Linked DNA regions of Homo sapiens. The protein of the gene in region 5 purifies or fractionates together with the protein of the main gene of each other region. This does not show direct contact. Each region holds a gene or a part of one and is shown on either strand. Other genes may lie near its edges.

The links.
Region 1: the proteins of LIMS1 (region 5) and REPS1 purify together in Homo sapiens (affinity purification with mass spectrometry, with the first as the bait; one large-scale study listed by BioGRID). This does not show direct contact.
Region 2: the proteins of LIMS1 (region 5) and PA2G4 fractionate together in Homo sapiens (co-fractionation; one large-scale study listed by BioGRID). This does not show direct contact.
Region 3: the proteins of LIMS1 (region 5) and MYH4 purify together in Homo sapiens (affinity purification with mass spectrometry; 2 studies listed by BioGRID and IntAct, with this or other methods). This does not show direct contact.
Region 4: the proteins of LIMS1 (region 5) and TYMS purify together in Homo sapiens (affinity purification with mass spectrometry; 3 studies listed by BioGRID and IntAct, with this or other methods). This does not show direct contact.
Region 6: the proteins of LIMS1 (region 5) and MYH7 purify together in Homo sapiens (affinity purification with mass spectrometry; 2 studies listed by BioGRID and IntAct, with this or other methods). This does not show direct contact.
Region 7: the proteins of LIMS1 (region 5) and BMP2K purify together in Homo sapiens (affinity purification with mass spectrometry; 2 studies listed by BioGRID and IntAct, with this or other methods). This does not show direct contact.

Annotation. Positions count from the first base shown.
Region 1 is NC_000006.12:138,981,754-138,985,253, forward strand, and holds part of REPS1 (ralBP1-associated Eps domain-containing protein 1), read right to left. Parts: intron 1-3,500. UniProt on the Homo sapiens protein: May coordinate the cellular actions of activated EGF receptors and Ral-GTPases.
Region 2 is NC_000012.12:56,107,559-56,110,984, reverse strand, and holds part of PA2G4 (proliferation-associated protein 2G4), read right to left. Parts: coding exon 3,372-3,426; intron 1,756-3,371; coding exon 1,692-1,755; intron 1,129-1,691; coding exon 1,050-1,128; intron 587-1,049; coding exon 508-586; intron 427-507; coding exon 293-426; intron 22-292; coding exon 1-21. UniProt on the Homo sapiens protein: May play a role in a ERBB3-regulated signal transduction pathway. Seems be involved in growth regulation. Acts a corepressor of the androgen receptor (AR) and is regulated by the ERBB3 ligand neuregulin-1/heregulin (HRG).
Region 3 is NC_000017.11:10,459,560-10,463,059, reverse strand, and holds part of MYH4 (myosin-4), read left to right. Parts: intron 1-91; coding exon 92-195; intron 196-2,005; coding exon 2,006-2,144; intron 2,145-2,738; coding exon 2,739-2,857; intron 2,858-2,958; coding exon 2,959-3,108; intron 3,109-3,500. UniProt on the Homo sapiens protein: Muscle contraction.
Region 4 is NC_000018.10:660,653-664,152, reverse strand, and holds part of TYMS (thymidylate synthase), read right to left. Parts: intron 2,008-3,500; coding exon 1,833-2,007; intron 1,168-1,832; exon of another isoform or gene 1,148-1,167; coding exon of another isoform or gene 1-1,147. Other genes in the region: ENOSF1 (mitochondrial enolase superfamily member 1), read left to right, coding at 1-1,147. UniProt on the Homo sapiens protein: Catalyzes the reductive methylation of 2'-deoxyuridine 5'-monophosphate (dUMP) to thymidine 5'-monophosphate (dTMP), using the cosubstrate, 5,10- methylenetetrahydrofolate (CH2H4folate) as a 1-carbon donor and reductant and contributes to the de novo mitochondrial thymidylate biosynthesis pathway.
Region 5 is NC_000002.12:108,673,970-108,677,469, forward strand, and holds part of LIMS1 (LIM and senescent cell antigen-like-containing domain protein 1), read left to right. Parts: intron 1-1,908; coding exon 1,909-2,059; intron 2,060-2,636; coding exon 2,637-2,729; intron 2,730-2,825; exon of another isoform or gene 2,826-2,961; intron 2,962-3,344; exon of another isoform or gene 3,345-3,500. UniProt on the Homo sapiens protein: Within the IPP (ILK-PINCH-PARVIN) complex, binds to F-actin, promoting F-actin bundling, a process required to generate force for actin cytoskeleton reorganization and subsequent dynamic cell adhesion events such as cell spreading and migration.
Region 6 is NC_000014.9:23,432,861-23,436,922, forward strand, and holds the start of MYH7 (myosin-7), read right to left. Parts: upstream 2,801-4,062; 5' UTR 2,760-2,800; intron 1,390-2,759; 5' UTR 1,334-1,389; intron 881-1,333; 5' UTR 873-880; coding exon 672-872; intron 368-671; coding exon 224-367; intron 1-223. UniProt on the Homo sapiens protein: Myosins are actin-based motor molecules with ATPase activity essential for muscle contraction. Forms regular bipolar thick filaments that, together with actin thin filaments, constitute the fundamental contractile unit of skeletal and cardiac muscle.
Region 7 is NC_000004.12:78,912,350-78,914,607, reverse strand, and holds part of BMP2K (BMP-2-inducible protein kinase), read right to left. Parts: 3' UTR 1-2,258. UniProt on the Homo sapiens protein: May be involved in osteoblast differentiation.

The DNA.
Region 1 (3,500 bases), on a different chromosome or scaffold from region 5:
CAGGGTTACAAAGTTAGCTGATGCCAGAACTGGAACTTGCCTCCCACAGTTAGTGCTCTTTATACCAGCTTCTCATGCTCTTGTGTCGCTCCATCAAATGTTTGGCACGAATTCCCAATATACTAAAACTCTAACTCTGGGCTATTGATTAAAACAAACAAACAAACAAACAAAATGACTGAAACTAGCACAAGAAACTCAAGAAGACAGAAATTTTAAAAGTAAATAAATAGGACACTACAGAAACACATTGACTGTGACTTCTTTCACAAACAGTATCTTTTTCAACTGTGTATAGGTAAGTGATTATGGCAAGATTATTTCTGTAGTTTATTACAATTATTTTAGTGATTCAGAACTAAAAACCACTACTCCAGAATAACAAACCTGAGACTTATTAAGTTTATAACTTTCAACACAGAAATGAGCTCTGCTTTCCTATTTTTAAACTTATCACTAATGCCAGATCTTGTAATTGATTTAAACAAGTTTCAAGACAAAAACAAAATGGTTTGTTTCACTGTTATTGCTTTTCCCCATTAAATTTATGTGTTATGCAAATATTCTAACAAGATATTGCTCTACACAAATGATCTAAAGATTTTCAGCTTCATTAACAGGGTACATTGCTTACAAACCTCAATGAAAGAACAGTTAGTACTAGAACCCTTTATCAATCTATTATGCATTCAAAGTCTGTATGAAGTTTTAAGACATTTCCCAAAACAGAAGCTTTTGGTAAAAGCTAAGAAAACATTCTGATTAGTGTGGTAAATAGTATATCTTTCCTAATCTTTAAAAAACAAAATAAACTACTTTGGGAAAAGCTGACTTTTAAGCCACAACACTGAATATTTTCTTGCTCGGCAGACAGCAAAATTCCTCATGATTAAATCCTATGAGCCAGATTTTTCTCCCCCTCATCTTGCTATTATGTGGCATGGAGCATAATTTTACAAAGCATGCACTCCTTCACTTTGTCTATTGACATTCTGTCTTCAAAAACAAACTCTTAAACTCAGAATAGATTTTCCTCTGCTATTCAAAAGCAACTGTAATGAACACACCTTAAAACATCTGACAGTGGTAATAAAGAAAAATTGTATTTGTGTGTGCCCTGAACACCAACTACAAGAATCTCCCTCTTTCTCTGAAGTGGCTGTGTTTCAAGACATCATCATACATTAAACTACTTACTACGCAAAGGAGTAAGTTGATACGTAACACAAAATCAGATATTCTAAAATCCCTACTGTTCATAAGAACTATGGGGAAGTCAAAATCAGACCAACTGAATTTTATTCCTCACCCTGCTCCCAAACCACATGACCAGAGAAGGTAAGAGCTGGGACGTGAATAATAGTAAGGGAGAGATACGAATATTCACAAATAAATTATTTAACTTATCTGCTATCAAGTTCTTAGTGAACAAGAATAAGCCTGTAATCCCAGCACTCTGGGAGGCTGAAGTGGGCAGATCACAAGGTCAGGAGTTCAAGACCAGCCTGGCCAATATGGTGAAACCCCGACTCTACTAAAAATACAAAAATTAGCCGAGTGTGGTGGTGGCGCATGCCTGTAGTCCCAGCTACCCAGGAGGCTGAGGCAGAAGAATCGCTTGAGCCTGGGAGGTGGAGGTTGCAGTGAGCCGAGATTGCACCACTGCACTCCAGCCTGGGCAACAGAGCGAGAGACTGTCTCAAAAAATAAAAATAAAAATAAAAATAAACAAGAATAACACCCACTTCACAAGGTTGTTGCAAGAATCAAATGAGTTCTTCCATGAAAATGATTTGCCTGGTTAAAGGAACATAATAGGCACTCGATAAATGCCAGCTCCTTCCTCGTTTGGTTCTGGACTCGGTGTTATTTGTTCTCTACACTCATGCCCCCAGATGACTCAGTCTCCTCCTAACTTTTACTAACAAACACCGAAAACTACTGTACCAACCAAGGTCCTGATATGTATGTGCATGCCCAGTCTATGTGACACTGTCTCCCGTCCCTAAACACTTAGGTGAGCAAAACAGAGGAAGAAATCCCGAACCTCTGAACCTGAACTGCTGTAAGAACCAGCAGTTGGGGTGGACAAATCTCCACCCACTTCCCACTGTCTCCAAGAGATCTGAATTGCCATCTAAGAATGTCTGAAACCAAACTCATCATTGTCTCTTTTAAAAAGTAAGCCCTCTTCCTGCCCCTTTTCTAACTGTGAGTGGTGTCCAAAGAATAATCCTTGCCCCACTGTATTCTCACCAAAACACTGCCAAATAACCCAGGCCTATCACGTTTACCTTCATAATCTCTACCATCTCTCTCTCTCTCTTTTTTTTTTTTTTTTTTTGAGACAGCGTCTTGCTCTGTCATCTAGGCTGGAGTGCAGTGGCGCGATCTTGGCTCACTGCAACCTCCTCCTCCTCCCAGGTTCTAAGTGATTCTCCTGCCTCAGCCTCTGGAGTAGCTGGGATTACAGGCATGCGCCACCACATGCGGCTAATTTTGTATTTTTAGTACAGAAAGGGTTTCACCATGTTGGCCAGGTTGGTCTCCAACTCCTGACCTCAGGTGATCCACCTGCCTCAGCCTCCCAAAGTGCTGGGATTACAGGCATGAGCCACTGTGCCCGGCCCATATCTGATTTTTTGTCCCACTCCCACCACTATAGTCCAGGTTAGGGTTTCTCAGTCTCAGCACTATTGACATCTTGGGCACATAATGCTTGTGGAGGCTGTCCTGTGCACTGCAGGATGTTTAGCAACATTTCTGGCCTCTACCCACTAGATGCCAGTAGAACTGCTCTCTCCCCTCTAGTTATGACAATCAAAATGTCTCTAGACACTGCCAAATGCCTCTTCCCCATTGTCACCTTCATTCCCATGTTTGAGTACCACTGGCCCAGTTTCTCACTTCGTATCTGCCATACAAAATCAGCCCCCAAGTTAAGTCTACAGTTTTATTCCTCTAATTCCTGTGGCCCTGACAAACGACTCCTAAAGCACTGCTTTATGAGTCATTTCTCTTAAATCTACCACTCCCTGTTACCTACACAATTAGTTCAAAGCTCTCCATCCAACCTTGATAATCTGGCCTCAATTAAACATTATTCCACAAAGCACCTCATATAGTGGCTACCCAGCAGTCCTTCAATAACATATCCAGTCTCTCCCTTTCTATTCTACTGCTGTCACCCTGGTTGGATGTCCATGACCTAGCACCCAATCCAGACCACTGAAAGAGTGTCATTCCTTACCCTTTCTGCCACTCAAAGTCAAAAACTTTTCAATGGGTCTCCATTGCTTGCTGAAATATCGTTATCTGCTGCCCTTCTTCAGAGTCTTTCCCAATATGGCCTCTTTCTAATTTTATATTCTGTTATCCCGAAAACACTAGTCCTTGAAAAGGCTCCTACACTTTCCACTTCTGATCACTTTTCTCTGCCTGGAAGCCCTCATAATTCCATTCCCCTCACTCCACCCTAATTTAAAGTCCATCTGAATTAA
Region 2 (3,426 bases), on a different chromosome or scaffold from region 5:
TTCTTCTCATCTTCAAATGCTCTGGCAGGGAAGATGATATTCAGAGGTATCTTTAACTCCCCATCAAGTCTTACCATTTTGCTCATATTTTAAAATAGCTCCTACCCTCAGGCAGAAATCATGCTTAGGATTGCTCTTTTACATTACCTTCAATGAGAAGGAGATGGGGAGAGAGAGGGAGGGAGTGAGCACATGCACGCTACAAGTCTAGGCAGGAAGGGAGAGGAAAAAGTGTTCCTGGGTGTATGGTCTGTGAGTCAGACTGGTTCCAAGTACTATCATTGCTTAGTACCTTAAAGTAAACGGCATGGCATCAAAACGCCTTTCCACCTCACTGAAGAAGGCACGTGAAGTTTTCATTTTCAGTCCATACTGTTTAGAGGGGTCTCGTTTGTAAATAGTGGTTCTCTGTCCTGCATCCTTGGCCTGAAAGAGTAATTTAAGTAACATTTGGTCTGGTGAACACTCTCAGTCACCCCTCTTTGCCAACTCTGGTACTCTCCTCACCTTGCCCTCTCCTGAGCTGACGAGAACATCCACAGCATATACTTCATGTACCTCAAATTCAGCTTTTTCATGGTCCTTCCTAAAAGGAATAGAGAGAAAGGAATTTTTTTTTTTTTTTGACACAGAGTCTCATTCTGTCACCCAGGCTGGAGTGCAGTGGCACAATCTCAGCTCACTGCAACCTCCACCTCCCGGGTCCAAGCAACTCTCCTGCCTCAGCCTCCCAAGTAGCTGGGACTATAGGCACAAACCACCAGGCCTGGCTCATTTTTGTAGTTTTTAGTAGAGACAGGGTTTCGCCATGTTGGTTAGGCTGGTTCTGAACTCGTGACCTCAGGTGATCCACCCGCCTCAGCCTCCCAAAGTGCTGGGATTACAGGCGTGAGCCACCGCGCCCGGCCTAGAGAAAGGGAATATTAAGAGCAACAGGTCACTCCTGAAAACATGGAGTAGAGGGCGGACAAGATTCAGTTGGGAGTATAGAAAAAAACCTGATGACTAGTCTTGTGTGGTAGAAGGTAATAAGTAGGGTTGGCACCTACTTCTGCTGGTCTGTGGGATTCTGGATAATGGTTTTTTCTCCATCGATGACATGCTGCTTCAACTGGTGTGACAGCATACCTGTAGATAGTACACAACCTATGGAACAAGCTATCCAGTATCCCAAAAGGTTTCCAAATCCACCCACTTCAGTAGTTTGAAGTGGTAGGCAGTGAGACAACTACCTGGTTATGGAAACACAGGGCTCTGAGATTTCTGGCTTAGACTGGGTTATAGCCAGGATAGATCTTCAAGGGAGCAAAAGCCTCAATTCTGCAAAGCCACTCATTCTTTTTTTTTTTTTTTTTGAGATGGAGGAGATGGAGTTTCGCTCTTATTGCCCAGACTGGAGTGCAGTGGCGCAATCTTGGCTCACTGCAACCTCCTCCTCCCGGGTTCAAGCGATTATCTCGCCTTAGCCTCCCAAGTAGCTGGGATTACAGGCACCCACCACCACGCCCAGCTAATTTTTATATTTTTAGTAGAGACGGGGTTTCACCATGTTGGCCAGGCTAGTCTCAAACTCCTGACCTCAGGTGATCCGCCCACCTCAGCCTCCCAAAGTTCTGGGATTACAGGCGTGAGCCACCGCACCTGGCAAAGCCACTCATTCTTAGACCCTCAACCCTGTTATCTGTTCTCACCTTCTATTGGCGTGCAGTTAAATGAGTGGGCAACTTTGTTCCAGGCTTCTGTCACTTGTGTGTTCTAGAAGTACAACATCAAATGAAAGGTGAGATATCAGGAGCTAATAAGTTCTCTACAATGAGAATAAGAAGCATAAAAGAACTGAGCGTTTTTTTTTTTTTTTTTGAGATGGAGTCTGGCTTTGTCACCAGGCTGGAGTGCAGTGGCGTGATCTTGGCTCACTGCAATCTCTGCCTCCCGGGTTCAAGCTATTCTCCTGCCTCAGCCTCCTGAGTAGCTGGGATTACAGGCACGCAACACCACGCCCAGCTAATTTTTGTATTTTTAGAAGAGACGGGGTTTCACCATGTTGGCCAGGATGGTCTCGATCTCCTGACCTCGTGATCTGCCCACCTCAGCCTCCCAAAGTGCTGGGATTACAGGCATGAGCCATTGCACCTGGCAGAACTGAGCGTTCTAATATCCTCCATCAAGCCCCAATGATTGTCATTCACTGGTTTTTCATTTCATAGCTTGATTATCCCTACAATCTAAAAATACTTTATACAGATGCTCCCCAACTTGCAATGGGGTTACATCTCCAAAAAACTCATAAGTTGAAAATATCACTAAGTCAAAAATGCATTTAATACCCCTAACCTACCTAACATCACAGCCTAGCCTATGTTAAATGTGCTCAGAGCACTTAAAAAACATTATCCTACAGTTGGGCAGAATTATCTAACACATGCCTATTTTATATTAGTGTTGAATATCTCATGTAATTTACTAAATACTATATGGAAAATGAAAAACAGAATGGTTGTATGGGTACTCAAAGTATAGCTTCTACTGAATGTAGCATCAAGCTGAGGACCAGCTGTAACTGCATATCATTTTACCCAGTGCTTTCACAAAGATGGTCTAACTCAATAAATTTTGCATGTGAACAGGGCAGATGTATATCCCAATCTAGAAGACAAGGAAACTGAGTCTCAGGTTAAATGATTTGCCCCAGGTTAAATGAGTGTTAAGTGAAAGAACTTGGTCATAAACCTGGGTTTTCTTTTTTCTTTTTGTAGACGGGTCTCGCTATGTTTCCCAAGCTGGTCTCAAATGCCTGGGTTCAAGCAATCCTCCCACCTTGGCCTCCCAAAGTGCTGGGATTACAGGCATGTGCCACCACATGCCTATAATATTAAGTCCAGTGTTTATCCTTTTTTACCTGGCATTCTAATCTGTTTTGTGGGGACAGCAAATGCTTATTTTTCCTTTTTCTTTTGTGAGACAGGGTTTCATTGTTGCCCAGGCTGGAGTGCAGTGGCATGATCATAGCTCAGCACAGCCTCAATCTCCCAGGCTCAGGTGATTCTCCCACCTCAGCCTCCCTGGAAGCTGGGAATACAGGCACATGTTACCACGCCCAGCTAATTTTTGTATTTTTTGTAGAAATGGGGTTTCACCATGTTTCCCAGGCTGGTCTTGAACTCCCAGCCTCAAGCTATCCTCCTACCTTGGCCCCCCAAAGTGATGGGATTACAGATGTGAGTCACTGTGCCCAGCTAAATATAGCTAATTTTAAAAAGCTGTTTTATAAGGGGTCTGTAGGGGAGGTTGGTAGTTTCATATAGAGTAGCTATAGGTGCCTAATGCATCTTTGGTTCAAACGAGCTTTGGAATTGGATAAAATAGCTTACCTGATTTCCAGGTTTGACCAGGCGTAGGGCAGCTTCAGCACAAAGGTGAGCTGCC
Region 3 (3,500 bases), on a different chromosome or scaffold from region 5:
AAGAATAACAGCCCTTCTAAGAAGCCTCTCTGAAATGTTTTTGATGACCAAAGCAATGCTGTCTATATACTGTTCTTTTCCATGTGTTCAGAAATGCTTCTGATCACCACCAACCCATATGACTTCGCATTTGTCAGCCAAGGGGAAATTACTGTGCCCAGCATTGATGACCAGGAAGAGCTGATGGCCACAGATGTAAGTAATAGGTACAAAGTAGTAAAAAGTAAATTCATTTTCCAGTGTACAACACTCTCCTCTATTAGGGTGGAAAGCAGTGGCAGAAAGACTATAAATAGGTAATACAACCCTTTGGGCTTTCTTACTTTTGGAAAAAAATTGTAGGATATTTCAATACCCTCCCCCTACATGTGTTAAAAAGCTTTCACTGCCTGTAATAAATGTTGGGTCTTTAGTATTCCTTAGCTAGTAGGCTCCTTTCATTCTATCTTTCTTATTAGTCATTTTTGGTTGATATTTATGCTCCAATATTAATGTTTCTCTGCTATTTTATGCCACACCTCACACCCAAGATTCTGGGAAGGAGCTGCAATATTATTACAACTAAACATGGAACTCCCACTGTTCTTCTACAGTCACATGTAAACATAAGCCTTATTTTGAATAAACCTCTGTGGGCCAATGATATATCCCTCTCTACTCCCTAAGCAGCATTAGAAGAAGTGGGTTGTCTACTTCAAAAACACTCATTTTGGGGACTCCATAAGCCTTTATATTTATTTTTGAAACAACGCACTCTCTCCCCACCATCACCTCTTTTTTAAGGATTATTGCTTTTTGGCTTACTTTCTTTATATGTAAACTTTATGTATATTTCATGCTTTCTTTTGATTTCTGAATAATCTTCCTTATTTTTAACTTTAATATCAGTGGGACTATCCCAATACCCCCAAGTTAGAGTTGACAGTGCTTGCAAAACTGCTTTTTCTATTAAAATATTATTTTCAAGAAGTCAATAATTCATTTGTGTGGCTTTATATTATAAATATCAGCTTTAACTCTCTATAACTTATTATTATCTTTGTATGTCCAAAAGTGATAGGGAGTTAAGAAACACACCCTGGTCTGCGAGGTTAAAAAAATGTAGCAGTCTTGCTCTAAGACTTCCGTAATAATGTCTAGTTTCTGTAAATAGGTAGAGTTAGTGAGCTGGAAGTGGAAGTCAATAATCTGGGGAAAGAGTCTTAGGTAAGAATGGTAAATAAACATATTTTCCTCTGCCTGCTCTGAATCCTGCCCCCATTTATAAGCCTTTTCAAAGCCTATGTGGGCAACTAAAAAGGTAATCAAAATTCGATAGAGAAAAAAGACACAGAAATATTATACTAAATGGCAAAATTCCTTCTTTTCATAAATGTCTCTTCTCTGCATGAGAAATAAATAACTAGGTAAAGTTTGCTACCCCAGGCATCTCGTGGTCGCTGAGCTGTGGCTTGCTATCAGAGAGGCATGTGGAGAAAGACTCACAACCATTGCTGTTCTCCTCATACCCTCTTTCCAACTTTATCACTCATGCCCATTAGCAGGGGAAGGTAGACTGGGATTATGCATTAGGATAGGACAAATAGGAGAAGAAGGAGCAACAGAGAGACTCGTGAGACTGGAGAAAAGAAACAAAAATAGCCAAAAGACCAAGAGGAGCATGTGCCTGAGAAGCAAAGGGGGGCTGGGGTGGAGAAAAGGGGCAAAGCACTGGCCTTGGCATCAAAAGTCATGGCTCTTAGTCCTGGTTCAGTGAGTGTGGACAAGTCACATCATATGCTGTGACCAAATGGACTCATGACTCAAATGGAAAGACTGATGCATACCTCTTCGTGTTGCCATGTGGATCAAAAGGTAAAGCATATGAGTACCTTTTGAAGATGGCAAAGTGCTAGTCAAATATAAGGCAAGGCGTGATGAGAAAAAAGTGGGAGACAGCCCCGGTGTTCTGAGGGATTCTTCCATGGTGCTAATTGGGGATGAGCAAATTCAACTCTTTTGACAGAGTGCTGTGGACATCCTGGGTTTCACTGCTGATGAAAAGGTGGCCATTTACAAGCTCACTGGAGCCGTGATGCATTATGGGAACATGAAATTCAAGCAAAAGCAAAGGGAAGAGCAGGCAGAGCCAGATGGCACGGAAGGTACCACCCCCTGTTGGTATCTTCCACTTGACAAAGCTGACATAGTGAACTTTTCAGAGGCAGGGACCGTGTTTTTACTTTCTCTGACCTAGCTCGTGAAGGGCAAAAGTATTACGAGAAGGAAATTACACACTGCCTGACGTTTTACATTATTTAGCAGATTTGTGATTTCTGCTCATTCCATTATTCATTGGCTTTTCATAAGCTCATATTTGCTATTTGACTAAAACATATTTTATTTCAGGATAATCTGTGTGCCCACAGGCACTGAAAGAAACAGAGATCTGAATATTTCTGTCACTACTCCTCTAGGTTAGGGTTTCTCAAATTATTTTTATCTGTGGTCTACTTTTGCCAGGTTAAATATCACAGACAGCATCGATTCCCCAACCTCCAATTTATCATCACAAGAAATGACTAAAATTAGTGCAAGTGGTGGCAATGCTTTTGAGGCAATATGAACAAATGAAAAGGTTTCAATGACATTTGCACATCTTACTTTTTGAGTGAAACCTTTTTTCTTTGTCATCATCATTTACATTTTAAATTGTGTAAGCCATGGTCAGTTTCACCATTCTCACCTTGTTCACACAGTTGCTGACAAAGCTGCTTATCTGACAAGTCTGAACTCTGCTGACCTGCTCAAATCTCTCTGCTATCCCAGAGTCAAGGTCGGCAATGAGTTCGTAACCAAAGGCCAGACTGTGCAGCAGGTAAACATGACTTAAATTGTCTGATTTATTTGAACCGCAAGTGACTCAGGAGTTCATCACTGTTTTCAATTTAAAAAACTAAACTATCACTTCTGTTGAAGGTGTACAATGCAGTGGGTGCTCTGGCCAAAGCCATCTACGAGAAGATGTTCCTGTGGATGGTCACCCGCATCAACCAGCAGCTGGACACCAAGCAGCCCAGGCAGTACTTCATCGGGGTCTTGGACATTGCTGGCTTTGAGATCTTTGATGTGAGTAGTGAACTGACAGAAAATTAGCCAGTGCAAATCCTCTTGTTAGAGCATACAAAATCACATTTACAAAATGTACCTTACAAAATATACAAATGTAATTCCTACTGAAAGGAGTCTTTGAAAAGATATGAAAAGTAAATAGGTATAAATAGGAAAAGAGAAAATTCTATTCTTTTGAGTCTAGAAGTCTCAAAAGTTGATCCCTGAGAGGTTAAAATAGTCAAAATCTATCCTGGATCCAAGCAGATGAGCATGAGAACACCTTTTTAAAATTACTCTAAGGAAATATTTCAGAGTCCTCATTTAACAGTATTTTGCCTAGTATGCATGATCTCATGCAGTTACTTGGAAAATAAGTATTCAAAGAATCAATTCTACTTTGTTTAGAA
Region 4 (3,500 bases), on a different chromosome or scaffold from region 5:
ATGCTCATGGGTAGGAAGAATCAATATCGTGAAAATGGCCATACTGCCCAAGGTAATTTATAGATTCAATGCCATCCCCATCAAGCTACCAATGACTTTCTTCACAGAATTGGAAAAAACTACTTTAAAGTTCATATGGAACCAAAAAAGAGCCCACATCGCCAAGTCAATCCTAAGCCAAAAGAACAAAGCTGGAGACATCACACTACCTGACTTCAAACTATACTACAAGGCTACAGTAACCAAAACAGTATGGTACTGGTACCAAAACAGACATATAGATCAATGGAACAGAACAGAGCCCTCAGAAATAACACCGCATATCTACAACTATCTGATCTTTGACAAACCTGAGAAAAACAAGCAATGGGGAAAGGATTCCCTATTTAATAAATGGTGCTGGGAAAACTGGCTAGCCATATGTAAAAAGCTGAAACTGGATCCCTTCCTTACACCTTATACAAAAATCAATTCAAGATGGATTAAAGACTTAAACGTTAGACCTAAAACCATAAAAACCCTAGAAGAAAACCTAGGCATTACCATTCAGGACATAGGCATGGGCAAGGACTTCATGTCTAAAACACCAAAAGCAATGGCAACAAAAGACAAAATTGACAAATGGGATCTAATTAAACTAAAGAGCTTCTGCACAGCAAAAGAAACTACCATCAGAGTGAACAGGCAACCCACAAAATGGGAGAAAATTTTTGCAACCTACTCATCTGACAAAGAGCTAATATCCAGAATCTACAATGAACTCAAACAAATTTATAAGAAAAAAACAAACAACCCCATCAAAAAGTGGGCGAAGGACATGAACAGACACTTCTCAAAAGAAGACATTTATGCAGCCAAAAAACACATGAAAAAATGCTCACCATCACTGGCCATCAGAGAAATGCAAATCAAAACCACAATGAGACACCATCTCACACCAGTTAGAATGGCAATCATTAAAAAGTCAGGAAACAACAGGTGCTGGAGAGGATGTGGAGAAATAGGAACACTTTTATACTGTTGGTGGGACTGTAAACTAGTTCAACCATTGTGGAAGTCAGTGTGGCGATTCCTCAGGGATCTAGAACTAGAAATACCATTTGACCCAGCCCTCCCATTACTGGGTATATACCCAAAGGACTATTAAATCATGCTGCTATAAAGACACATGCACACGTATGTTTATTGTGGCACTATTCACAATAGCAAAGACTTGGAACCAACCCAAATGTCCAACAATGATAGACTGGATTAAGAAAATGTGGCACATATACACCATGGAATACTATGCAGCCATAAAAAATGATGAGTTCATGTCCTTTGTAGGGACGTGGATGAAATTGGAAATCATCATTCTCAGTAAACTATCGCAAGAACAAAAAACCAAACACTGCATATTCTCACTCATAGGTGGGAATTGAACAACGAGAACATATGGACACAGGAAGGGGAACATCACACTCTGGGGACTGTTGTGGGGTGGGAGGAGGGGGGAGGGATAGCATTGGGAGATATACCTGATGCTAGATCATGAGTTAGTGGGTGCAGCGCACCAGCATGGCACATGTATACATATGTAACTAACCTGCACATTGTGCACATGTACCCTAAAACTTAAAGTATAATAATTAAAAAAAAAAAAAAAAAAGAGTGTGAAACGGCCTTCATGAGGCTTAATTGTGGCTTAACCTGGCACCACCCCTCACAAGGTCAAAGCTATACATCAGCTCCTGTGACATTGACTCATCCCCCAGACCTTATCTAAAACAACGGAGCAAACACATGCTAGGAAGGGCACCCGGGAAATGGAAGGCATTGTTCTATCTCCTCACCTGATTCCATATCTCTGTATTCTGCCCCAAAATGCCTCCACTGGAAGCCATAAACTGGGCCCAAGTCCCCTTCTTCTCTGGTGGAGAATCCCAGGCTGTCCAAAAAGTCTCGGGATCCATTGGCATCCCAGATTTTCACTCCCTTGGAAGACAGCTCTTTAGCATTTGTGGATCCCTGGAAGAGATGGGGAGAGCAGAGCAGGCATCCAGGTAAATCCTAAGCCATCTCAGTTGATCCCCCCGAGACACCACTTACAAGGGCCTCTGGCCCCTGCTGACTTGCTAGGAGGTGGGCACTTGACACCACCCATATGGAACCCATCCTTTTTTTTGTTTTTTGAGAGTTTCGCTCTTGTTGCCCAGGCTGGAGTGCAATGGCGCGATCGTGGCTCACGGCACCCTCCACCTCCCAGGTTCAAGCGATTCCCCTGCCTCAGCCTCCCGAGTAGCTGGGATTACAGGCATGCGCCACTACACCCAGCTAATTTTGTATTTTTAGTAGAGACAGTGTTTCTCCATGTTGGTCAGGCTGGCCTCGAACTCCTGACCTCAGGTGATCCGCCCACTTCGGCCTCCCGAAGTGCTGGGATTACAGGCGTGAGCCACCACACCCAGCTGCCCATCCTATCTTTAAGTAGGCTGGTCCCAGCCCAGATTCCTGAGGGCTTTAGGACAGTCTGATCCCTTCTTTGGAACCACCCTCCCAGATCTTTTCTTCCATTCCCCTCAACTAAGCTTTTTAGGCTAAACACCTCCAAGTGCTTTTAAGTATTCCACCGATCTGACAGTTTTATGTTTCTTAATGAAATGTGTTGTCTATATGTAATACCCCAAAATGAATTTAATGCCTACATGCAATCTGTTCAATGTATCTTCTACCTGGCATACAGGATATTCCTAATGATCAGACTAATCAGTATTTTACAGTGCAGGTGCCTCAACTCCTGTATTTGATCGAGTCACCAATGGAGTAACTCCAACTATCAAGGTGAGTCTGACATTCCTGGCAAGGATTCCTTAGAATCCTGAATTGAAGCATTAAGTTGAAACAGGGGAATGCATTTTATTTCTGAGTATCTTGCTTCCTCCCTTTCTATTGTTGAGTTTGTCCCGATTTTCTTTGATTGAGAAAGAATCAAAGAAATTTCCAACAAATCAAAGAAATTTCTCCAATTGAGAAATTTCCAACAAATCATTTCTCAATCTTTTACATATTGCTTCAAAAGTCTCTCCTTTTCATCCATTCAGACCAGGCTCTAGCCAGTTTAAGAATGTTGTCTTCTGAGGTTTCTGATGATATGTTTCAAATCCAAGGTTCATTGTTAGTCAAGATAGGCCAATACAGAACAAAATACCCCAAGAATACAGAGCTAAGGCAGACCTGGGGCTGGATCCAAATTGAAGCCCTTTCTAAAATGGGATAAGAGGGCTTGGGTCTGGCTTGCCCCAAGACCATACAAGCCATACCAAGTGCTCTATAGAAGGGATCCCAGCTTCTAGTATGGCCCAGACCTGAGCCCAGACCTCAGCCACCTTCCAAAAAGCACTGGTCAGAAAGAACATCGCTGGTTCTAGACCAGGACACGGAACACAGAGAAGCTTGGTCTGGGCTGCTGCCTGTCTTCACAGCACTCTGGCCCCGGCCTGAGGTACCTACTCAGCCCTCTG
Region 5 (3,500 bases):
GTTATGATAAATTGTTGGGCTATGAATTTTTCTCAGTTTGCTGCCTAGTATAAAAATTTAGTGGATAAAGATTCTTGGCCGGGCGTGGTGGCTCACACCTGTAATCCCAGCACTTTGGGAGGCCGAGGCGGGCAGATCACGAGGTCAGGAGATCAAGACCATCCTGGCTAACACGGTGAAACCCCGTCTCTACTAAAAAATACAAAAAAAATTAGCCGGGCACGGTGGCGGGTGCCTATAGTCCCAGCTACTTGGAAGGCTGAGGCAGGAGAATGGCAGGAACCCGGAAGGCGGAGGTTGCAGTGAGCTGAGATCGCACCACTGCACTCGAACCTGGGAGACAGAGCGTGACTCCATCTCAAAAAATAAAAATAAAAAAATATTCTTTACTGTAGTTAATGTGAACTTACTTGCTAAATTATAGTAGGGATGGAGAAGAAACAGTAAGCCAAATACTAAGAAAACAGTTTGGGCCAGGTGCAGTGGCACACGCCTGTAATCCCAGCACTTTGGGAGGCCGAGGCGGGTGGATCACGAGGTCAGGAGATCGAGACCATCCTGGCTAACATGGTGAAACCCCATCTCTACTAAGAATAAAAAAATTAGCCAGGCGTGGTGGTGGGTGCCTGTAGTCCCAGCTACTCGGGAGGCTGAGGCAGGAGAATGGCATGAACCTGGGAGGTGGAGCTTGCAGTGAGTGTGGATCGCGCCACTGCACTCCAGCCTGGGCAGCAAAGCAAGACTCGTCTCAAAAAAAAAAAAAAAAAAAGAGAAAGAAAGAAAACAGTTTGGTTGTATAAGTTCAGCCATCTCATCTTTTGTGATTGAATTATCAGTTTGTGCCTTATCTCGTTTTCTTGCCTGTCCTTCCTCTTGGGGATTCACCTCTGTCCACTTTTCATTAGCATCTCTCCTAGAGAATTACATAAAAGGGATGAAATTCAAACAAGTCCGTTTGACTAATTGGGACCATCTCTGACCAAATGTTTATTGATGCAGGAGACTGAAAATAATATTTAATTTGAGTATTTGGAGAAGGAAAATTCTGGGCATTTTGTTGTTTATGAAAATAAACCTATTAACCTATAACTATTTTCAACAGCTTGTGACAATTTAAATAATTGTTAGTAAATGGAACTAGTCTCCCAACTTCTCAGTTTGCTTGGAAAGGTCGTGTGTTAGTCTATTTTATGCGCCTGTAACAGAATACCACAAACTGGGTAATTTGTAACCAACAGAAGTTTATTTGGCTCATGGTTCTGGAGGCTGGGAAGTCCAAGATCAAGGGGCTGGCATCTGGTGAGGACCTTCTTCTGCATCATTACATAGCAGAGGGCATCACATGGTGGGGGAAGAGGAGGGGGGAAGGAAGAGAAGGAAGGAGGCTGAACTCGTCCTTTTATAAGGAACCCACCCCCTCAGTAACAGCGTTAATCCATCTGTGAGGGCAGAGCCTTCATGATGTAATCACCCCTTAGAGGTCCTACCTCTCAACACCTCAGAATTGGGGATCATGAACTTTGGGGACACAGTCACACCATAGCAGATAGTATTACTGAGTCTACCCTCAGCACTGTGATTATTCCCTGTAGCTTTTAGAGGAAGACAAATGGACTAAAATGTAATGTGATAATATAAGAAGGAAATTATGAATATGACTGGTGTGGTGGTATGTATCTGACCTAGTCTTGCATCTTATCCTTTTAAGATACAGATGTTTTGGTAGGAGTCTGAAACCTGTTCAGGCCTATTAATTCAGGTTATTCTGATCACCTCTAAAGGGGAAAAAAGAAATTTGCAGGGATTGTCATAGTAATGTCTTTAAAAACCTTCTAAAAAGTGTGCTAGCCCCATTGGTTGGCCACTTTTCTCTCTTAGTATTAAGCTGTGTGTCTTTCTCACGGACAGGAAGGAGCTGACTGCCGATGCACGGGAGCTGAAAGGGGAGCTATACTGCCTCCCATGCCATGATAAAATGGGGGTCCCCATCTGTGGTGCTTGCCGACGGCCCATCGAAGGGCGCGTGGTGAACGCTATGGGCAAGCAGTGGCATGTGGAGGTGAGTTCTAAATGGCAAAGGGTAACCAATCCTTTCAAATCTCCATGATTAAGGGGTAACCAATACTTTCAGATCTCCCATGATTCAGGGGTAACCAGTACTTTCAAATCTTCATGATTCAGGTGTCCTGGCAAGATTAGGAGACTCTAAAGATTAAACGTGGACATTTTAAAGACAATTGACTTTGCTGACAGCTAAGAATATATAATGTACACTGCTTTTGTGAATGTCTCAGTAATGATACAGGATGTGTACTTTTGCTCCTAAAGCCTTCTTGAAGCAGGAAGTGCCATGGTCTGTATCCAGCAGCAGCTCCTCCTTTATAGGTGCTACTGAGATGCTCACCTCTATTCTCTTTTTGGGCTATTATAATAGGCTATGTCTTAAAGTAACCTTCAAAGACAGACACCTGAATTACAACTGCAGAAGTATTATATTATGGGGCCACCTATGGCCAAATGAAATGACTGTCTCAAACTTTCCTTCATCTTCTCTGAAAATAGGTTAACTCTGGTATTTACTTTATTAGATATAAAATATGGCAATTCAAAAATGACCTATAGCAATTTTTTTTCAGCATTTTGTTTGTGCCAAGTGTGAGAAACCCTTTCTTGGACATCGCCATTATGAGAGGAAAGGCCTGGCATATTGTGAAACTCACTATAACCAGGTATTGACCTTAGTCACTGGATGCTAGATAGACTTTTATGAACCTAAGCTTATCAGTAGTTTAGCTACAAGGAAATCTCTTGGAAGATGTACATTGTTCAGTAGAGATTTGTTTTTAACTTTTTATTTGGGAAATAATTTCAGACTCAGAAGCTAACTATAAAATATACAAAGAATACCTGTATGTCTTTCATTCAAGTCCACAGTTTGCTTTATCATTTCCCAAGCTCAGTCTTCCTGTGTAAAACACATAGTTACGTAAATATTATATACAAGTACGATGGCTGTTTTGCCAATAAGTTCATCATACTCCTTTATCCCTAAATACTTCAGTGTATATTTCCCAAGAATATGGGACTCTCTAACATAATTGTAGTTATCAATATTGATACCGTACTCTAACCATTTATTCCAGTTTTGTCACTTGAGTCAATATCCTCACAGCATTTTTTCCACTCCCAGACTGGACCCAGCCTCTGGCTGTGATGTTTCTTTAGCCTTCTTAAATCTGGAACGTTTCCAGAGTCTTTTAAAATTTTTGATGACATTGACATTTTGGAGGGATGCAGAGGGCCCCTAACCCCTTTTTAATAGACTACTTTCCACTTGGGTTCACCTGGTGCTTCTCTGTGCTTAGATGAGGTTATACACAGCAGGTTGTGGCCTCATACAGTGGCAGGGCATCTTCTCAGAACCTTGCCCCTGGAGCATTTTATACCTCTCCTGCCCTGGTGATCTCCCAGGCATGGTGCTGGCTGATAACATCACTGTG
Region 6 (4,062 bases), on a different chromosome or scaffold from region 5:
TAGAGAAAGATCCCAGGAGAGAAAGAAGAGAAAGGAAAACCTCTGCATGCACTCAATCTGAGTAATGCCAGTCCCCAGAGTGTTGGAATTGAACCAAGGATGTTGGGACGAGGTTAGAGTGTAACCCTGCCTAGACACAAACAGAAGACACTCTTGGCTCCTGGGGTGGACATGGATGGAGCAAGAACAGAGATCCCAACGTAGGGCCAGGTGCAGCACTCACGTAGATCATCCAGGAGCCGTAGCGATCCTTGAGGTTGTAGAGCACCGCGGGCTCATGCAGGAAGGTCAGCATGGCCATGTCCTCGATTTTGTCGAACTTGGGTGGGTTCTGCTGCATCACCTGGTCCTCCTTCACGGTCACTGTCTGCAAGAGCCCCCACCCAAGCCCTCCTGTCAGCCTGGGCTTTCCCTCCTTCCTCAAGAGGGTTAGGAGTTGGTGAGTGACAGGGCAATAGTGCTCAAGAGAGAAGGAACCAGGATCTCACAGGGAAGACAGAAGGGATATTGGGAAGGAGAGGGCTCTTTGGAGGGTCTGGATTCTTCCCCAAAGGGAAGGAGAATGGGACCATCCTCAGGTCTGCATGGGCATGGGGCATGGGTGTACCCCTCTCTGTCCACCCAGGTGTACAGGTGGCCAGGGTGGACTCTCACATCAGCCTGACACCCACCTTGCCATACTCGGTCTCGGCAGTGACTTTGCCACCCTCTCGAGACACGATCTTGGCCTTGACAAACTCCTGTTTGTCATCAGGCACGAAGACATCCTTCTTGAGGTCAAAAGGCCTGGTCTGCGCTTCTAGCCGCTCCTTCTCTGACTTGCGCAGGTAGGGGGCGGCAGCCCCAAAGACTGCCATCTCCGAATCTCCCATGGCTGTGCCTGGAGTGAGCAGAAGCTGGCTGCCCTCCCATCTGCCCATTCTTCCCTTCCCTCCCTGGGCTCTCCCCTTCAGTGGGAGCCCCAAAACCTAGCACCATGCTCAAGAGTCAAGAGGAGTTACCAGTGAGTCCCTTCCTCTTTGAGGTTACCCCTTAACCAGAGGAGCAGCCTAGCAAACCTGCCAGGGTAAAAGGAACAACTAACTATTGTTCAAGCTGGGGCTCTCCTAGGGGAAGGAAGAGCATTCTGAGCTCCCTGTAGGAGCAGAAATCTAACTATTTCCATCTCTGACCCTCATCTATCCCTGGACCCCCTGGTCACAGGTAAGTAGCTCTTGATAGCCAAGATATTCTCTCCAGCACATGGCAGAAACTAGAGTTCCATAGGCTGGCTTTGGGGCTCTAATGCCCAGTCTTACTAGATTTTCAACACTCTAGCTTCAGCTTTTCTTACCTGGGCTACTCAAGTGTGTCTACAGATGAGGAAAGGGGCCAAGGCCTGCAGGGGACCTGGAGAGAGGGAAGAGGCTGTGTCAGGGCAGGCTGTGCCCAACCTGACCAGTCCCACCTTCCTGCTTCTCCCTGGCTCTGTTCTTCAGCATCCACCCTCTTCCAAAACAAGGTGGAAAGGGTGGTCAGCTTCTCTGGTCCCATCCTTCTTGTTTTTCAAACCCTATTCCCTTTTTCCTCAAGAACTAGTTCTAACAGCTTCCTGGTGTCAACTCAACCTGAACCCTAATCCTCTTCACTCCTGCGAGATGGTCCCACCCCTGCCTGTACCCATCTAGTGGTACCTTTCTTTGAGCCATCTGAGAGACAACTAATGGTCACATTTGTTCGGCACTTTCCAGTCTAAAAGCACTTCAATGCACTTTCTCCTACTCAGTCTTCACCCCATTTGACAGATGAGGAAATCGAGGTTAAATGGCTTGCTTGGCCAAGAGCCCATGACAACAAGTGGGAGAGCCAAGACTTGAATGCAAGTCTGATGACTCTAAAGAGACTTCTTTTCCATCCTGTCCCCATTTTGTTGTCAGACTTTGTGGACATTCTCAGAGAGAAGACACTGTGGGCTTCCTCTCACAGACACACCCATCACATAGCCAAACACCCTCCACAAGCCCTCTGATGAACACTCATGCCTGCTGCTTGGGCATGCCTCTCACATGAAGACAGGCTTCCTTCCCATACCTCAATCCGCACCCCAACCCCAGGGTGCCATATATGCCTCAACAGCAAATGTGCACATTTCAGGATGTGTGCCACGTAAGTAGATCACATCACTGCGTGTTCTTCAGTACACAAAGACCTGGAACATCCTACACCCCCGTGCCTGTGAGTTCCTTCTGCAGAGGGTACAGATACTATAACAGTCATGACTCGTGGAGGCATAGACAAGAACCTCTGCATGCATGGACAGGGGTAGCTACACATTCCAGGCCTCACAGAATCACATGAAGGCATACACACTTCCTAGAATCCTTCTCCACCATTCTTTCTCCCTCCCTGCAAAGGAACCTCCTCGTTCACAGACGTGATCATACACCCACATCTCCCACTTGATATTTCTGTATCAGTCAGTGAGGTACATACCCTTTCTCACATTCAGACTATGCAGGCTTGTCCACACACACACACACACACACACACACACACACACCCTGTAATGCATATTGGTCCCATATGCTCAGATGCAGATATCTTCCCCTAGGAACTCCTGTGGCACATACGCCCATGTTTAGACCTGCACATGTGTGCCCAGTGACTGGACCTGGTACTCTGCATGAAGTCCTGCATGAAGCTTGCTATTCCAAGAGGAATCCCTTCCTAAGCCTGGAGCCCCCTTATCCCAGAGTAAAGCCTCCAGCTCCCGCTCCTACCTGAGAGCAGCAGGGAAAGACACAGAGCAGGACAGAGCTGTGGAGCCAGACCTGGTCTCAGGGGCTGTATATATGGGGCAGCAGGGCACCCCCACCCCCAACGGCACCCAGTCCCTAGCCGGATTTAGAAAGGGCTGTTGTCACTAGAAGCATTTCCCCCAGGCTCCCCCCCTTCCCAAACAGTGCTCCCCTCCCCGCCTCTCCAGCTAGGAAACAATTGGAAGTGGTCGTCATTGTTATGGCATGGACTGTGCAGGGTCTGAGTTCCAGGGGGCGGGGTGGCTCAAAGTGCAGCAAAAATATCTCCCAGGCCAGGCCTCACATTCCACAGCTGGCAGGAGAGGGAACTGACCACGACCACCAAGACCACAGGCAGCCAATGTCCTGGCTCTCCCGCAGGGCACTTCTGGCCCTGGACACTGCTCCCCCTCCAGTCCCCTGCTGCGAGGCCCCTGATGGCCTGGCCGCATTTCCACAGTGTCCTCCCTGCTCTCCTGGCCCAGGTCCTGTATCCAACTGGAAGCTGGGAAGGGGCTGAGTGTCAGCAGCAGAGAAGGGTAGGACAGAGTTGGGGGCATGGCCCCAGGGTGAGGCAGCTAGACTGGGGCAGCTGGAAGGACATTTCCTAGCCAGGTGGCAAGAACAATAACCATGGAGCTTAGAGATGGGGACTCTGGCTCAGGCACTGATTTCCTTGGACCAGCAGGCAATGTGTTGAGGTCACCAAGCCTCCGAGCCAGACAGGCCTTTAGCAATCCATCCAAGCACTTCATTTAATGGAGAGGGACAGTGCATTCTTTAAGGTTATACAGCTAATCGGGGCAGCAGGATTCAAGGTGGGAAACCTCAGCAGATGGGAGTGGAGCCCGGCCTGTGGAGGGTAGCCTGGAAAGGTGGGCTGGGATTCCAAAGATGTGGGGACCCCCTATGCGCAGAGAGCAGGACCCAGCTGCATTGGTCCTAGTTTGGAGCGGTTTGCCTGACTCACGTTCCTGGCTCTGCCCCACAGGTACTAAAGGCCTGAGCCCAGAGACAGACCCTCTCAGAGCTATAGATAATACAACTACTTGGAGCTGGAAGGAGACCCCTAAGACAGCTGTTGTCTGGCCCACCCAGCCTCAGCTTTATCCAGAGCTGGAGGCGACTAGTGTTCTGGCAAGTGAGGCAGAGTAACAGGACAGGAAAAATCTTCCCCTCTGCAGGCCTGAGGAACAGCCACAAAGGAGGGGAGGAAAGGGAGCTGGGGCCCAGCCTACGAGCACAGAACACAACCGATGCCATGCTCTTCTAGCAACGGGGCATG
Region 7 (2,258 bases), on a different chromosome or scaffold from region 5:
GCACTTTCACATATCTTGGGAGCTTTATTCTCATAATTCTCACAAGGGAATAACCTGAGCATCAGCTGTGTGGAGTGACCTACACCTTGACCATGATTCTGGGGGATGATGAATGAAAATGCAAAGTATAAATCTATACTCCTTAGGAAAATGCCTCTACTACAACACAAAGGAATCTCTCCATTTCTATCCTATTGAACCCCCAATTGAATCCTGTATCTTTTCTCTGAGCTACAATCTTGAAAGAAGAAAGTCACTGTGCTGTGTTATAAGAATGTAAATATTTTATGCTGTCAGTTGTTTCCTCAGAATTTATAAGTCAAAGGGTCTACATCAGTGTCAGAATCATTTAAAATTATTCAGTGTATTGAAAAGCAAGTAAAACTCTAGGTATTTCATGTTTACATCTGAAGGAGACATTAGTTCATCCTCTACCCCTTTTCTAAATGATGAAACTCATGAGGTCTAGCAGAGACCAAGGACTAATACAATCAAGAAGCATATTGTGTACACCTCAACAGATTTTCATTAAAAAAAATTGTTTGATACAAACCTACTGTAGTTCATGAATTTACTATGTGTAATCATCAACTCTTCACTTTTAAAAGAAAGTATCACTTGAATCTATTTTGTAAAGTTTTTAAACATCTACTTGAGCATTTGCATTAGCAGTATTAATCAACCTGAGAATCAGAAAAAAAAAAAAAGGTGCAAACATATTTGCCTTTGGCACGAGGACAAGTAATTGGTGCAGTCCAGCTCTAAATAATAATGTAATGCTTGGTCTGCCTCTGCTACATTGTGATTCACATATTGCTTCCCTATCCACAAATCTATATTTGATTTAGCATATAAAAGAAGGGAAAAAGCAATAAAAAGACAAATATGTGGTTTAGTTACATATACTTTGCTTCTTTCCAAGTTCAGAACTGTGAAAATAGGCAAATAGCTTATCCCATTGGGGCACTATAAGAGATTCCTAATAAAATTACTCGTAAAATATACTTTGAGATCGAAGAGAGTTAATTTAAAATATAAAAATCAAAGAGAGTGCCAGTTGATGAGTTTCTACTCCTTTCTGTAAATAGCATTAACTGTTCTAGAAACTTCCAAATGTTAATCTGATAGCGCAGCACAATTATATCTTAAAATAGTCATAGACACAGGAAGCACAGATACTATATTCACATTAATTCACATATGTAATCTCTATCATTAAATGATTTCTATAAAACCTCAAGTTTCTAATTAGGATTTGTGGTGTAAAAAAAGGCAAATTGGTAGCTGGGTTCTTTTCAGTAAAGACACAATCAACTAGCAGAATTAAGATGCTAGTCCACCTTATATGCATTTTAGGATCTGGTATATTAGTGCAGAGGTACTTGCAGCAGGATGCATGAATCCTGCCTTTATATAAGGCTTTGTGGGTGTCACCATTCTGTGCACTTTATTAAAACTACTCCACCCCCCAAAACCTAATAAAAATAATTGTTGCTTATGACTTGGGGAATATTTGGTGAAGTTGCTAATAAAGTACATTGTTAAATGCAACATGATTTCACATTGTAAATGTCTTGAAAATTCAGTTTCCGCTACATATTTTCTTCATAAAATAAAATTTTTATACAACCCTTGTCCTCCAATTTTTCCAATAATCTGCTTTATTAGGGCCATCACAATAAAAGTTTGGGGCAAGAAGCCATGCATAAAGTGTTTCTAAAGTAGTGAATGTTTTCTGTTCTGTATCTTTTTTTCTTCTTATAATTTCTTTACAAATGTCAGATATTTCTCTTCATATTTTTGTTCTAGGCTTCTGTGCGACGATAGTCCATTTTTTTAATTTGTTTTAACTGACAAAAATTATATATATTTATCATGTATAACATTGTTTTGGAATATGTAAGTTGTGGAATAGTTAAATTGAGCTAATTACACATTATTTCATATGCTTATCATTAGATATTCCATTTTAATGGCACTTGTTTTTAAAAATGAAACAGAGTTTTAGGCACAATAGTCAGTTACTTCTGGCTCTGCTTTGTGGAGAAAGGTGTATGGACTGAAATCTCTGCACTCTCCAGATAATAACTTTCTAATGCTTTAAGATAACTAGATTGTTTTTAACTGTCTGGAAATTAAAAGAGACCTTAAAAAAAATTCACAAGTGTAACTAGTGTATGTAGAAATAACCCTAATTTTAGGGATATGCACATAAAAATGACATTCTGATATCAAAAATAACAGTTTCACTGTCCCTT